2 separate regions of the Homo sapiens genome follow, and region 2 is linked to region 1. A link means that fine-mapping ties the variant in region 1 to the expression of a gene that starts in the linked region. Tissue or cell type: T cells. Region 1 holds a variant in brackets; the other region holds the start of a gene. All regions are shown on one strand. Distances are between the middles of the regions.

Region 1 (8,179 bases):
TGTGCCAGGGACCACAGAGTCATTCAGCTGCAGAGCCTGCTCTTGGGAGCCACAGCCCTGGCCTCAGAGAACAGCATATTCTGGTGTCCAGAGAGACATAAGTTGGCTGTGTCCTCATTCTTATGTTAGCATATCAGTGCCAACATTTTGCCAGGGATCTGTTTCTACAGAAATGGGTGTTTGTTTTCTTAAATGAACAGTATGGGTCGCATCTGATCCTTGAGTTTATGAGACCAAGATAAAATCACACAGGACGTTCATGGTGTTGAACCCCAGCCACCCTCCTTGCATCTGTAGCTCAGCCCACTCGAAAGTGTGGCTGGGCGTGGTGGCTCATGCCTGTAATCCCAGCTCTTTGGGAGGCCATGGCAGGCGGATCACTTGAGGTCAGGAGTTCGAGACCAGCCTGGCCAACATGGTGAAACACTGTCTCTATTAAAATTACAAAAATTAGCCAGGCATGGTGGCGCACGCTTGTAATCCCAGTTCCTCAGGGGGGGCTGAGGCAGGAGAATCGCTTGAACTCAGGAGGCAGAGATTGCAGTGAGCCAAGATTGTGCCACTGCACTCCAGCCTGGGCAAAAGAAGGAGACTCCATCTCAAAAAAAAAAAAAATGCGGGCGCGGGGGGCGTTGGGCGCAGTGGCTCACGCCTGTGATCCCAACACTTTGGGAGGCCGGGGCGGGTGGATCACCTGAGGTCAGGAGTTCGAGACCAGCCTGGCCAATATAGTGAAACCCCCATCTCTACTAAAAATACAAAAATTAGCTGGGTGTGGTGGGTGCATGCCTGTAGTCCCAGCTACTTGGGAGGCTGAGGCAGGAGAATCGCTTGAACCCGGGAGGCGGAGGTTGCAGTGAGCTGAGATCGCCCCACTGCACTCCAGCCTGGGTGACAGAGAGACTCTGTCTCAAAAAAAAAAAAAAGGAGGGGGGGCGGGGGAGTGTAATGTCTCCCCACACTCAGGGCCCCATTACCATCTAGGGAAATCCCTCCCTAAAAGACAGGGGGGTTAGAGGCAAGGACTATCAGAGACCGCTTTGTCTAATTCAAGCCCCTCCTTTCCAGAGGTCCAGAGCCTGGAGAACTTAGTCCAGTGCCTGGCACACAGTAGGCGCTTAGGAGATGGTTGCTCAATGAATATTGGGGGGGGGTCACTCTCGAGTCACTCTAAATTGGGGGCAGAGCCCAAACTAGAAACTAGATCTCCATATATTCTGTCCCTTCTGTGGCATCACCTTTTTCAGGCCCACCTCTCATACTTGGCAGAGTGGGAGGACTGAAAGTGCGCTCACCTCTTTTGTATTAAGATGGCCTGGGTTCAAATCCCTGTTCTACCACTGACTCCTGGTGGCACAAGTTAGACAAGTTACCAAATCTATCTGGGCCTTGACTTCCTCCTCTGCAGAAAGTGAACAATAATTTCCACCTCATAGTGATGTCACAAATATCAAATGAGATACTGTAGATGAATTGCTGCGTTCAGTATCTGGCACATAATAGGGTGTCTTTAAATACTAATTAATCCATCTTTCCCCACCATGGCAGACTAGGATTTCTGTCTAATATATTGAAAATGAGCCTGGAATGATAGGCAAAGATTTGGACTGTAAGAAACAGTGCAAGCAGGCCTTGAATTGAAGTCAACCCAATGTATCATACAATTAGATTTATAAAAGGCTAAAATGAAGGTGGGGTGATTATTTAGCGTGATCTTCTAGAGCATTTCAAAGAAAATTTGATAACAAAAATTTAATTTACACACAACTTTTCTACTTCACTAAACCCTGAAAAGACCCAATTAGATTAGAAGAAAAATTGATTTAATGAGCACTAAAACCCATCCAAAAGTGGCAATCACTTGTCTATGAAACAGATTTCTTTGATTGTGACCCAGGGTGCTATCCAGTTCAGCCTGATTTCCTATGAAATGTGATTATTTTTATCCTCAAGTAGAGCTGGCCAGCTTCGTGCGTTTCAAAGGATGGAGGCCCCGTGGGGCGGGCTGAGAGGATACTCCTTCCCTCTCTAGGAACTAGCTGGTCCCCAAATGACCCTGGATTTTTCTCCCGGCTTCTAGCTTGTGCCTGGGGCCACACAAAGCCAGTGGACCTTGGAGGGCAGGATGTGAGAAACTGTTCCACCAACCCCCCTGTGAGTGCCCCCTGCCCCCCGCGCACGGCCCCCCTGGCCCCACGCACCCCCCCACCCCTGCCCCACGCACCCCTGCACCGCAGCACCCCCGCCCTGCTCTATCATCTTCTCTATCCCTCATTGGGTCAGTTGGTAGCCCCTCCTCCTACCAGGCTTTCTCCTGATTTCCGGACTCTTGGGCCCCTCCCCCCTCCACTCCCTCCCCTCCACATCAGTGCCCTCCCCTCCCTCCCATTCATTCCCCCAGCAGGTTATCTGCTTCCGTCCTGATCTGGGCCTGGGAAACCCCTCTAGGAGGAGGGAGGAGGGCAGGAGGCCCCTAACTGGCCTTTGGCTGAGGCCAGGCAGAGGAAAGAAAAGACAAATTCTAGAGTGACAGCAAAAAGAGAAGCACAGAAGGGAAGAGGGAGGAAGACAGAGGTTAGAAGAGCCAACGGAGGCCGAGCACGGTGGCTGACGCCTGTAATCCCAGCACTTTGGGAGACCGAGCCAGGTGGATCACCTGAGGTCAGGAGTTCGAGACCAGCCTGGGCAACATGGTGAAACCCCGTCTCTACTAAAAATAAAAAAATTAGCCAGGCATGGTGGCGGGTGCCTGTAATCCCCGCTACTCAGGAGGCTAAGGCAGAAGAATTGCTTGAACCCAGGAAGCAGAGGTTGCAGTGAGCCAAGATTGTGCCACTGCACTCCAGTCTGGGCGACAGAGCAAGACTCTGTCTCAAAAACAAAACAAAACAAAACCAAAACCAAAGAAGAGCCAACGGAAGGGCAAGAGAGGGAGGCCTAGGGTGTGCAGACGAGGAAAAGGCCCAGCAGAAGGGGCTTGGGTAGTCAGCTTCCTAGCTGGAGACCAGAGTGATTCTTTCTACAATCAGAGTAGGGCTAAGGGGTAGGCATGCCAGCAGCACTGTAAGCCATGGGAAAAACGCAGTACATCTGCTAGCAATATCAACTTTATGGGACCCCTGGGGCAGGCAGGTGGGTGGGCAAACCACATTACTTTTATATTAAAACAAACATGGATATATCGTGGAGTAGAAAGCAAAACAGCACAAACGGAAACATGCTTTTCGTTTTAAAGCTAAAATGACCTGTAAAGAAATAGAGAACTGGTCTGGAAAGGGTCTTTCTGGGCAATATCTCAAACTGCTGGGGGCATTCATTCACTCTCCTCTGCCATTTGGGACCAGTGGGTGGCAACCTGAAAAAGCCCTGCCAAGGGAAGGTTGCCAGATAAAATACAGGACACCCAGTTACATTTGAATTTTAGATAACAAATAAGAATTTAGTGCAAGTATGCCCCAAATTGTGCATGTTTTAATATAATACTTACATTAAAACATTACACATTGTTTATTTGAAATGCAAACATAACTAGGTGAGTGTCCTGTATTTTTATTTGCTAATCTGGCAACCCTACCCCCAGGTAGCCAAAGAAGGACTGTCTGCATGGCCTGGCCCAATGCCAGAGCTCAGACCCCTGCAGTTCTCACCCACACCCATATCCCAGACTCAGGTCCCATTACTGTCACAAGGGGTCCCTTTCCAAACTCTCCAACACCTCCATCTCCACCCAGCCCAGGCATCTTAATCTAGACTAAGCAGTAACATCAGTTGCCACCCCATCCCTTCCCAAGCCAGGCCAGCCTAACTTCCCCCAACCGCTGCTTCAGGAGAGGCTGGGGGCTCTTCTGGAGGCCAGGGGCCCAGATGTCATTTTCTCTAAGCAACGTGTGTATCTGTTTGTTTGTGTCTCAATGTCTTCTTGTCATCTGTCAGTACCTTCCAGTTACTGTGGTCAATACCACAATGTCACTCACAGCCCTCCGCCAGCAGATGCAGACCCAGAATCTCTCAGCCTACATCATCCCAGGCACAGATGCTCACATGGTAAGAGACAGCTTCTCTCCCCCTTGCCCTCTCTGCTACCCTGGGTCAGAGACCACAAACAGGAGCTGTTAAAACTCAGAAGATGAAGACAGAGAAAGGATCTGATGGGCAAAGGGAGGGAAGTAGAGAGCATGGACACGGTAGTTTTAGGGCAAGTGAAAGAATGTATCCCTCTACATAGGCGGGCAGACATTGCCAAACCTCCTTAACCTCAAGAAATTAAACTATAAACAACTTCAGAATCAATTTTCATCAATTCCCAGAAGGCAGATCCAGAATGAATGTTTAGGGTATCCCTGCCCTAGGAGGTTAGAAGGTGGGCTGGAAATTGGGCTGGAAGAACTCCAAGCTCCCTTCTGGCCCAGGCCTTCCCATACTCTGTGGAATGGAGTAGCAAAATAATCCAAAATCCTGGGTTAAGGGAGCGCGGGGTTGGTTGTGGAGGGGGGCACCCATCCCACCGTTTCCCCTCACTAGCTCCACCCTCCACACCATCCACCTTTCCAACACCAGCCCATTTGGAAGAGAGGGCATTTTTAGTGTCAATGAGCTTGTTTAAATTAATTTTCCCACATGCTGGGAAGGGCTAAGAACGTTGGGTAAGTATCTGAACTTCCCTGAGCCTCAGTTTCCTCTTCTGCAAAGAGAAATGGGTCTGTAATGAGATCTATCTCCAAGGATTATGAGGATCAAAATATGATAATGTGTAAAGCCCTTTGCAGAAGTTATGATGTTCCCAGTCTACTGTGCTTGACTCAGGAGGGAGAAGGATTAGCTGGAGGGGAAAACCCAAACGAGCCAAAAGACAGGACCCTAGACTGCATAGAATTTGCAGGGCAGGGCAACAAGTCTCCTTTGCAGAACAGTCCAGTGTTACACTGAGTCCAGTGTGAACAGTGTGGGGGCGGGGGAGTTGAACTGCAAAAGATACGGTTGCTCAAAGGAAGGGAAGATATTGAAGGCTGGGAGAGTTACAGAGGGCTTCCTGGAAGAGGCACTTGGTGTGCTTGGGCTTGTAGCTGACAAGGGGTTGGAGCCGACAGACAGAAATAACTGGGATGTGGTTGGGGGCCTTTCATGTGGGATCTGATACCAC[G/A]AAAAAGGCTAATGATGGTGTTGTTGATTTCCTAGAACGAGTACATCGGCCAACATGACGAGAGGCGTGCGTGGATTACAGGCTTTACAGGGTCTGCAGGTGACAATCATTACCCAGCCCCATTGCTTTTGTTGGTAGATCCAGAGGTGGTCACAGAGGACCTAATGTGGCTAGTGTCTCAGCATCTGGGACCCCAGAACCTACTGTAGAGAAAACCCTTCTACTCTCTCTGTCTCCCTCCACCACCCCAAAACCATCAGATTCCCCAGGGCACATATCTCATAGCCCACCAGCCACTTTCTGTGTAGAAATGAGGCAGAGGCTGCCTTCCTGTGCTCATTACCTCTGCTGCAACCAGGCCCAGTCCAGCACTCCCAGGCTCCGTTTCTAAATAGTTGCTACTTCTACCTCTAACCGCTAAGAACCCGCTGATTCCTTTCACATGAGGGCTCATTTGGAGACAAAGTTTTCCTTTGCCGGTTGTTTTACGGACAACATCACTTCACATGGCCAAATGAGACACAAACATATAAGCCCTTGATGAGATCACAGTGTCTGAAGGGGCCTCGCACCGTGATCCTGGCCCATTGAATGAAATCCAAGCTTCCTTTCCTGATCCTCAAACATTCCTCCTTGGGCTTCAAACTACCCTGCCTCGTGCCTCGTAGGCTCTTTTTCCCTTTGCCAAAGTCTCTGGATTATTCTTGCCCAGCAGTCCTCAGCTGAGCCTCTGGTTTAGCCTCCCTATCAGCCACCGAGTCTTTACGCTGAGCCCCATCTTTCCTGAGAGCGCCTACATGCAGCCAAAAGTTGACCTCACTTCTGCTGAAAGTCCACAAGCAGCCCTCAACACAAAGCAGAGGTGCCTGATTCAGGACACCTTTCTGCCAGCTCCCCCCACAGCTCTTTTTAAGATCTCCTTCCTCACTTCTTTCCAATGGAGGAGAGAATCTCTTTCCAGAGGCCCCTTGTGGCATTCTCAGAGCCAGCACTGCATTGCACATCCATCAGCTAATGCCACGTTCCTCCCCTTCACCCTCACCTGCAAGTTTCTCTGTTCTGCCCCAGGAACTGCAGTGGTGACTATGAAGAAAGCAGCTGTCTGGACCGACAGTCGCTACTGGACTCAGGCTGAGCGGCAGATGGACTGCAACTGGGAGCTCCATAAGGAAGGTAGAAGGGCCGCATGGATTTGTTCCCCAAGTCTTGGGACCTGGACTAGGTTCAGGAAGGTATAGGTGAGAGCGTGCATGTAAGACCATGCTGGGCCTCTATGGGGAGCTTAGGAAATTTGAGGCCATCACTGACTTTCAAGGCTGATCTCAAGGAAGACACACATGGTAGGACCATCAGACAGAACCCCTGGCTGGAGAGCCTGGGGCTGGCCCTGAAGGTGACCTCTGCATTGCTTCCTATCTTTCTTTCAGTTGGCACCACTCCTATTGTCACCTGGCTCCTCACCGAGATTCCTGCTGGAGGGCGTGTGGGTTTTGACCCCTTCCTCTTGTCCATTGGTATGCTCTTCCTTCAGTCCCTGAATTTGTCCATGCTAACGAGGGTGACTCAGCTTCCCTAGGATATAAAGAAATGGACCTTGGTAGAAGGAGGGGCGGTGGGACTATAAAGATAGAGCATTTGAAATTGTAGTTGCAGAATGTTTTGCAATGAGGATGTATTCATGGATTGTGTAATTAAAATACATTTAAAAGAATCAGTACAAATATTTTAAAATTCATGAGTGCAGAGACCCAACCTAGAAGACTCAGTGAATCATTAAAGAGCTAGTGGATGAATAGGCCAGGATGTGCTTGAACCCAGAACCATCCTCTGTGCCCTGGAACCCTGCCAATGATGATGCTGGAATCACATGGTAACCCTCTTCTGGAAGGTAGCTTAGAAGGGTCAAAAGAGTTGGGAGGGCTTCTGAGTTTAAAAAAAAAAGGGCCCCTGAGAATACAACTCCCGGAGTTCTGGGGCCTCAGACAGCTGGCAAGCCCATTCCCCCAAAGGGGAGTCCTCATGAATATGTACTGAAAGGCTTGTGCTTTAGAACTGGCTTCTCTGCCAGCCTGTCCAATGGCCTGAACATCACCATTCCTTTTGACTGTGACACTGAAGCCCTGATAAAATAATTAGTGCCCAAGAGAAGGACCACCCACAGCCACTGGCAATGAAAAAGACAAGCTTAGCCAATTTGTGGCAGTCAGTGTTAGAGTAGGCTCAGGGCATTAGGCTTGGAAAGCAGAAAGAGGATGAGAAACATACCCCAGCGTGGGCATACATGCCGGGGGTGGGGGGTGGGCAGGCTGCTGGGGCAGGCTCCGGGCAGCTGGGCTGCAAAGGGAGGCAAAGGGAACCAGGACTAACTTTGCCTGAATCACAATTTTTTCCTGGGGTGTAAATGGGCAAGGGACAAGTGACTCCTTCTTGTCTCTGCAGACACCTGGGAGAGTTATGATCTGGCCCTCCAAGGCTCTAACAGACAGCTGGTGTCCATCACAACCAATCTTGTGGACCTGGTATGGGGATCAGAGAGGCCACCGGTTCCAAATCAACCCATTTATGCCCTGCAGGAGGCATTCACAGGTGATTCAGTAAGCCCAGTTTCCTTCCCAACTTGTAGCAACGCAGGTCCCGGCTGCTATTCCGTAGGTGGCAAACTTCATCATCAGAGGTACCAAAGCAGTGGTTTGCAAACCTTAGCATGCACCTGAGTCACCTGGGATGCTTGTTTAAAATGCAGATTTCAGGGCCCCCTCCCCTTGAGGAGTCTGAATCAAAATGTCCTCCGGCCATATTTAGAAAATGTTGGGTTAAAGAATGTTAGGATTTGAAACAAGATGGAGCAGGAAGGGAGGAAAGAAGGGAAACAGAGAAAGATGAGAGAAAATATCCAACCCCTTTCAAGAGAGAAAAAATCATGATATGATTTGCTTGCCTGGTGGCAGAGACTGATCCATAATGAATCATTCAGACCTTTACTTCTGACCCTCTTGTGATGAAGAATTTAGATTTGTGAGATGGCTGGGGTCAGGTGGG
Region 2 (8,179 bases), 35 kb after region 1:
ACGTTGACGACTTCCCTATACTTCACCCCCGCTTAATCGACCCTAGCTATTGCAGCTTTGCAGATGTGATGCGACTTCCAGATGTCCTCCCCATCCTGTTCACTCCCCTCTGGGCCTGCTTCAAGGTGGCTCTGTGGCACCTAGTGTGGCACCCAAACCAGCATCAGGTGCCAAGAGAAGGCTGCAAGCCGAGGGCTCCATAATTCTCTCACCTCCCCGTTCAGGAACTCCGCATCAGAGGCACTTCAGCTGAGTGGTTAGTTGTGTGGGCCCTGGCCAAGACCAGACCTGCATTTAACGCTGGGCTCCACTGCTTACTAGCTGTGTGGGCAATTCACTTAACTCCTCTGGGCCTCAGCTTCCTCCCTGGAAAATGGGGATAACAATAGTGCCTGACTTACCAGGTTGTTGTAAAGCCCACTGCCTGCCATGAAGTATAATAATTTTCAGCTAGATGTGGGGACTGGGGGGAATGGAAATAAGAATCTTTGGGGGCCGGGTGCAGTGGCTTACACCTGTAATTGCAGCACTTTGGGAGGTAGAGGCAGGAGGATCACTTGAGGCCAGGAGTTCAAGATCAGCCTGGACAACATAGGCAAAAAAAAAAAAAAAAAATTAGCCAGGAATGGTGGCACGTGCCTGTAGTCCCAACTACCCGGGAGGCTGAGGTGGGAGGATCATGAGCCCCAGGAGTTTGAAGCTGCAGCGAGCTGTGACCACACCACTGCATTCCAGCCTGGGCAACAGAGGGAGACCCTGTCTCAAATTAATTAATTAATTAATTAATTAATTAATTAAAACTTAAAGAATCTTTTGGGAGGTTTTTCCAGATATAAGTATCTCTCACTATCCAAACTCTTACTATCTCAAATTAGAAATATATCCATTCAGAGAGTGAGAGATGCTTTTGTACATGGTCTGGATCTTACCTGCCCCAAATATCCCACTCATGATCATCTACTAAATAAGAATTTCTTGGCTGAGTGCAGTGGCTCACACCTGTAATCCCAGCACTTTGGGAGGCCAAGGTGGGCAGATCACGAGGTCAGGAGATCAAGACCATCCTGGCTAACATGGTGAAACCCCGTCTCTACTAAAAACACAAAAAATAAGCCAGGCATGGTGGCATGCGCCTGTAGTCCCAGCTACCCAGGAGGCTGAGGCAGGAGAATAGCTTGAACCCAGGAGGTGAAGGTTGCAGTGAGCCGAGATCGCGTCACTGCACTCCAGCCTAGGCAACAGAGTAAGACTCAAAAAAAAATTAAATTAAATTAAATTTAAAAAAATACTTGGAGTGTGCTGGTGTGGGAGCTGCTTTATCTGAATGTGGCCTACGATGACCTTTGTGTCTTTGGTAGTCCTACATCCACCCTCTGAGGGTTCAGGTTGATTTCACTATCAGTGGAACCCCAAAACACACACACACACACACACACATACACACCCTGCAATCCTGCAGTATTGGCGCTAAATCAAGGTTCTTCTGCCCCAAATCTATACTTCTGGATACGTCTTTATATTAAACTACTCGCCTCCAGGGGTTGTGGTGGGATTAAACATCTGTCAAGTGCTTAATGTAGTGCTTGGTAAAGAACAAGTGCTGGGTAAATGTAAGCTTGCCACTCCACCTAGGATGTCAGCTCCCAGGTACAAGGGGCCCTGATGGCTATTTATTTTGTACCTCCTCCCGAGGCCTAGCACAAGGCTGTGCCCACAGCAAGTTCCTAGGTTCTGCCTGCCGGCCCATTATCAAGTTTAAGGTGACCTTGTTCCCTGAACTACTGACTCGTATCACTTCCTTAGCTGAGAGCTCTGCGTACCTCAAACAACATAACCTGTAAAATGCAAATATGTTACCCAGAAGGGAAAATCTATTAAACACATGTTTAAGGGTCATTAGCCAGCAAGGACCTGGCCTATTGGGATTCAGCCAGGGCAATCTGTTGGAAGAGAAAAGCTGGGGGAAGGCAAGTCCCGATGGGGGGTCCTGGACACCCCGCCTCCACTGGCCCCGGTCCCCAGGTGGCGGGGAGGAGGTGTTCCTGAACAGAGGAGACAGATCTGAAAAGGAGAACGAAGGAAGCCGTTGAAAACACTTGCTCCCTTCTGTCCTGGGAGCTGGTCACCTCTCCATATTTCTCTCCAAGGCACCCTCACCTCCCTCTCGCTGCCTTTTCCCAAGCCTCGCCAGCCCTGTGCCCTGGTTTGCTGGCCGCCTTTGAAGGTTCTGCGGTTAGTGTGTGATCTTCTGTCGCTGCCGGCGCTGAGCAAACAGGAAGCGGGCACATCCTGCGAGGCGGCCAGGGACGCAGCCGCTGCGCAGGCCCGGAAGATTCTGCGACCTGCTTCCTCCCTCACGGCTCTGGCTCCAGGTGCCCCAGGCCACTACAGCGGCGTCCCCAATCCCAGAACCCTCTGGGGCTGCCCTCCTGCTCCTGGTCACGCAGAGCCCCAAAGGCCCGATGGGTCCCCTACACGGCTGCCAGGCTACTGTATATGCCGAAAAGCCTTAACCAGTTACCGCGCTTGCTAGTGACCCTGGGCCGCCTGGGAGGGACTTTCAGGGTGGAAAACACAGGCCAGTGGGAAGGAGATCTGGGGTGTGGAATCTTTTCATGAGTCTGCCTGGCCGACTGAGTAGGCCAAAGAATGTATGGTTTCAGCTTAGGGAAGAAAGATCTTATCTTCCCTGAGCTCACCCTGAAGGTTGGATGGTCAGAGGGCATAAAGCAGAATCGGAGAGGAAGTCACGAGAACATCTTGGGAACAGGGGTGGACAAGCCTAGTATTTCACAAGTACCACAGAATTGAAAGCCTTAAAAATGTGCATACCTTTGACCCCAGCAATTCCTCTTCTGGATATTTCCCCTACAGAAAAAAAACTATGGATGTGAATATTTACCATAAGTATGTTCAATGAATAATTTAAAAATTTAAGCCAACCCAAGTTCATCAGCAAGGGCTTGGTGAAATAAGCACGGCACATCCACACAATGGGATGTTCCACAGCCGTTATAAATTACGTAGTTGAAGACTATTTCATAGCATGAGACAATCTTGATACTGTGTTCAGCTGGACGTAGTGGCTCACGCCTGTAATCCCAGCACTTTGGGAGGATGAGGCAAAGAGGTCACTTGAGACCAGGAGTTCAAGACCAGCCTGGGCAACATGGTGAAACCCTGTCTCTACAAAAAATACAAAAATTAACCAGGGTGGTGGTACGCACCTATAGTCCCAGCTACTTGGGAGGCAGAGGCACAAGAATTGCTTGAACTCAGGAGGTGGAGGTTGCAGTGAGCCGAGATCACGCCACTGCACTCCAGCCTGGGAGACAGAGTGAGAGACTCCATCTCGAAAAAAAAACAAAAAAGATACTGTGTTTAGTGTGAAAAGCAGACACCAATAGTGTGAATTATGACCTTTTTTAATTAAAAAATTTTAAACAGCTTTATTGAGGTATAATGGAGCTACAATAAACTGCACATATTTGAAGTATACAATTTGATACGTTTTGACATGTGTATTCCCCCATGAAATCATCACCACAGTCAAGATAGTGAACATATTCATCACTCCTAAAAGCTTCCTGTTACCCTGTGTGATGTCTCCCTTCCCTTCTCTCCCCTCCCCTTCTCCCCAAACCAATTATCTGTTTTCTGAGCAGTATGATTTTTGTAAAAAGAAAAAAAATGTTTATAGACAGAGAGTAGATAGATGCTTAAAACAGTGTAGAGGACAATGATGGGAAATTTTGAAATTTTTTTTGTTTATGTGTTTGTGAAATTGTATGACAAATACAAGTTGCTTTTGTAATACCAAGAAGTTATTAAAGTTATTAAAATCTGCCACAGACAACCCACAAATTGAATATACTGCATAGGTGTTTGATAAATGCCTGTTGGATACTTGCTAGAGGTGTGGAGTTGGCTGTAAGTGCTTTTCAGCTGTGGTGGTGATAAATATACTCATGATGGCTGAGGGGTACTGACTGGAGGGGTGACTGCTCTAGTGATGATGGCTTTAGGTGTACTGATGGCTGTAGGAGTGATGGCTGCAGGGCTGATGGCTGCACGGATGTGATGATGGTTGTAGGAGAGATGACTGTAGGGACGATGGTTATAGGGGTGAGAGGGTCATGAGTGCGGTTGGCTGTAATGTCCAGAAGGGTGACAGCTGTAAGGATGATGGCTGGAAGGGTGATAGCAGCAATGGTGATGACTGTAGAGGTGATGGCTGAAGGATGTCAACTGTAGAGGTGATTACCATAGTGACAATGGCTATAGGTGTGCTGATGGCAGCGGGGATGGCTGCAGGCCTGATGGCTGTAGGGGTGATGGCTGTATGGTGATGGCTATTGATAGGAGTGATGGTAGCAGTGGTGATGGTCACAGGGGTGATGGTAGTGGTAGTGATGGCAGTGACGACCTTGAAGACGTGAGTTGACCGGGAGCATTGATCCAACAGGCAGCCAGATGGTCCAACTTCTGGTTTCTGGATTCTGGTCAGTGAGATAAAGGGCTTGGGTACGCCATATAATGTCGAGCTGATTGTCCACCTCTAGGAAGATGGAGCAGAAGGACTGATGATGATCGACATGAGACAACAAGGTAGGGACTTTCTCTGACTGTTCAACCCAAGAGCCGTCTGCATCAGAATCTCTGGAGACTGAAGCTTGGACTTCCTTCCTCCCTAGGGGCCGGCAGGGGCTGCGATTGCTGTAAGAGTAGGTCACGTGGCAGGGCTTCCTGTATGCTGCTGCTGCCGGGTGTCCATGGCCCGCACCCCCAAGCTGCCACTGCAGCAGTCAGAGTGGCAGCTGAAGGCTCGGTTCATGCCGTGCCCCCGGGCAGTTCTGGTGAGGCTAAGCAAGAGGCCTCTGCATCTTGACACCTAGGAGAGCAGGGACGGAGTCTCCCAGGGTGGAGGACCATGCTGCGCCGCAAGCCCTCCAATGCCAGTGAGAAGGAGCCCACTCAGAAGAAAAAGGTGAGGAGCATTTTGGGAACTCACATCTTCCTTTCCTCTGCTTGCTCGACCCATCCCTTCCAAGACTCTTGGAAGTGGGAAGAGCCAAAGGCCATATGTTGAGTCTGTAGGTGAGGGCCACTCACCTAGAAGGCAACGGGACAGGGACCCAAAGGTTAACAGAAGTACAGAAGAGATGTTTAAAATTCTGGAGCAACAGAGTTACAGAATAGATCCTTAGAAATCTAGAGTCATGCAATTCAACCCTAGAAGAATGGGAAAAAAGATCTAAAATTAGGGGCCAGAATCTTAGACTAGAATTTGAGAATAACAAAATACAATGCTTAAGCTGAACCCTAAGCTTGTACTTAACTATCTCTCCTCTACGCTGGTCCTGCTGCCACTTCTGCCCCGGCCACGGCCTCTCAGGAGCCATCTCACTCAAAGGGCCCTGCTGGGCTGCCCAGCTTGGAGCCATGATGCTCACAGGACTGCCACCCCCTCCTCCACTTTGGCCATGGCCCAGACCCTGCCCACTTGGCTCAGCTCTGTGGTAGCTCCCAGGCCCTACCCGAGATGGAGCCAACCTGGAGATGGGGGCCTGAGGCCATTCCAGTCTTGGGGGAAAAGGCATCCGGAAGTGCAGTGGGATGCAGGGGGCATACAGGTTCTTCCTGGGTGGGGAATGAGAAATTAAGTTGAGGTGGTGAGTAGGAGTGAAGGCTGAGGAGGGAGGATTTTAAAGGCCAGGAGGAAAAACAGCTGTCATGGATGGCTGAGGTGTTCATCCCCCTGGGGCAGAGACCGGACTGGAAGAATCCTTGAAGGCTGTGCCAGATCTAGGATTTTGTGGTTGAATTTGAGGATTTCCAGATTTCTTTGGTTGGGTTTGAGGATTTCTAGACCTAATTCTTTAATTCAATTGAAGGATTCTCCCAGACAATCAGCAAGTATATCCTACACATCCAATGGGATGCTAGGACAGTCCCAAAGCAGGCCTGAACTAGGTCCAAGAGGCCCAGGCTATCCCCCGCCAATTTTCCCTGGAACTCAGCCCAGGTGCCCTATGGTGGATCCCCCTTGTCAGGGGAGTAGCTCAGAGATGGAGGCCAAGGCAGCTGAAAGACTGAGACTCGGGGCAGTGGGGTGTGCATCCTGCCCCAGCTCTCAGGTCCTGGGGTGGCTGCCACTTCCGGCTGTATTCTCCCCACCCCAGCTGCTTCTCTAAGGTTGCAGTGGTGGTGGGCGGGGGAGGGGGGAGGTTCATGAATCTTCACACGGGCTCTGTCATCCCCGTCCAAACCCTGCAGGGTGCTAGGCCCAGCAGGACTGCCATTGGCTGCCACTCCTAAGAGAGCAGGGCCACTTCCCCTTGCTCTCTGGCTGGTGGGGGTGGGAAACAGAGATTGCTCTATAGACACTGCTAGGCCTCAAACCACAGGGGCGCTGAGCTGGAGGAAAGTGTGAGAAAGAGCTGACACTTTGACACTGGGACCCTGTGCCACATCAGGAAGACGTACCTAGGGGCACACAGAAGCCAGAAGTCCCCTTTTTCTTTCCCAGCTTCAATTACCCAGATTCTGTGTTCGGCAGGCAAGTGGGCCCCTGGGATTTCCCCAGGTCTCTCCCAGGAGAAGGGGTCCTTTCGGGGAGAGTAGTCCAGGCAAACCCCACCCCAACCCCTGCCAGAGCCGGTGCCAGCCTCCAGAGCTGGGATGAGCTTGCCTCCACACACTCTGCTAGCCCCAGACTATGGAAATGTCCCCCAGAAGCCAAGCTTCCAGAAGGTACAGAGCATCTTCCCCAGGCCCAGAGGCAGCGGGCTGGCTGAATCACTGCTAGTCCCTTCTTCTCAGAGGCTGAGATGACGTGGTGGAGAGGAAAGCACAAAGGCAAGAGAGGCCTCTTTCTCCTGCCCCTGCTTCTCCTCTTGGGCCTGCCAATGGAGAATGTGCCAGACAGGGGGCAAGAAAGCTGAGCTGGAATCCTACCACGCTCTAGCTGTAGGACCTTGGACAGCTCATTGACTTTCTTTGGGCCTCAGTTTCCTCGCCTCTGAAAAGGAGGATAACTCCTAATCTGCCCCCCTCAAGAGGTTGTACAGATCACCCAAAAGAATAGATGTGAGAGTACCCTGTCACAAGTGTGCACGTGCATACCACACAAGGGGGTGCCTGCTGTAGGCATGGGTGGGGATAGGGAGACACTGCAAAGAAGAATGAGCCATGCCCCCAGTGCTGGCACAGAGAACACAAGACTTAATAGTACTAAGAGCCACCACAGAGTGAGAGCTCATGGGATGCCAGGCACGGTGCTGTGCATCTCTTACCTTGTTCACTCCCCACGACAACCTGGTGAGGTAGGGGCAGATATTGTCATTATCCCTATTTGACACTTGAGGCTCACAGAGGTGAAGCAACTTGCTGAAGGTCACACAGCTGGGAAGCTGCCGAGCAGGGATCCAAGCCAAGATTTGTCTGACTCCAGAATCTTGACCCCTTCTCTCTCCACTCTCTTGTCCCCTTGTTGATCTCAAAGGCGCTAGAAGAGTCTGATGAGCATAAAAGATTCAACCCATCAGCAGGAGAGCTCCGTGGGGCAGACCCAGATAGCTGTGGAATGAGTGACCTTCCAGCCAGCAGAGCAGAGGAGGGTGCGGGCCCTCTAGAATGGTAGGGCTAGGACATGGCGCCTCCCATGGATCGTGAAGGATTGGAGAGGCCCCAGGGTTGGGAGACAGACCTCTTAGCTGCCCTTTGGAGACTTTCACTTCCTTCAAGTTCTTGCTCTGCAAGCCCTTTGATCTGATTTCACCCAAAGGCCAGTGTTGGGGTATAGGAAGTGGAGAGGGATTTTTCCTGGACTTGGTTCCCCTAAGGATGCTCCTACTCTACCACATCCCCACTTTCTCCATGGCTCCCTTCCTACAGCACACCTCTAGTATGACCCCCACACCCTGCCAGCATGCACTTTGTATTTTCAGTGGCTCCTCACTGCCCACAGGATACATGCCCTTGGCCTGGCGGGCAAGAGCCTTCCATAGCCTTTTCTACTCCCCCACCCACCATCCCATCATCAGGCTCTCAACGTCTCTAACTTTCATTCTTGTTCAAACCCTTCCGAGCTCCACCTGGAGAAATCCTGCCTCCCCTGCATGGCCCAGCTCAGATATACCTCCTCCACAAAGCCCCGCCAGAGCCCTTCCCCCTCTGC

The links. PIP is the estimated chance that this variant, and not a neighbour inherited with it, causes the effect.
Region 2: it holds the start of SASH3, and the variant in region 1 is fine-mapped to the expression of SASH3 in T cells (TOPMed, PIP above 0.99).

What each region holds. Positions count from the first base shown.
Region 1 is chrX:129,740,028-129,748,206 of GRCh38, forward strand. XPNPEP2 (X-prolyl aminopeptidase 2) reads left to right here. Exons shown (of 21, transcript NM_003399.6): 2 at 2,081-2,154; 3 at 3,934-4,044; 4 at 5,176-5,239; 5 at 6,209-6,313; 6 at 6,568-6,654; 7 at 7,580-7,726. Among named protein-coding and RNA genes, the nearest start is that of XPNPEP2, 5.1 kb to the left of the region's middle. The variant G/A (reference allele first, on the strand shown) is at 5,141.
Region 2 is chrX:129,775,168-129,783,346 of GRCh38, forward strand. SASH3 (SAM and SH3 domain containing 3) reads left to right here and starts at 4,782. Exons shown (of 8, transcript NM_018990.4): 1 at 4,782-4,987. The coding sequence starts at 4,931. It overlaps LOC124905215 (a long non-coding RNA gene), which reads right to left and starts at 7,367. Exons shown (of 2, transcript XR_007068328.1): 1 at 7,296-7,367; 2 at 3,408-5,112. RefSeq lists enhancers at 274-323, 1,663-1,752, 4,533-4,692, 4,943-5,022, 5,073-5,132 and 2 more.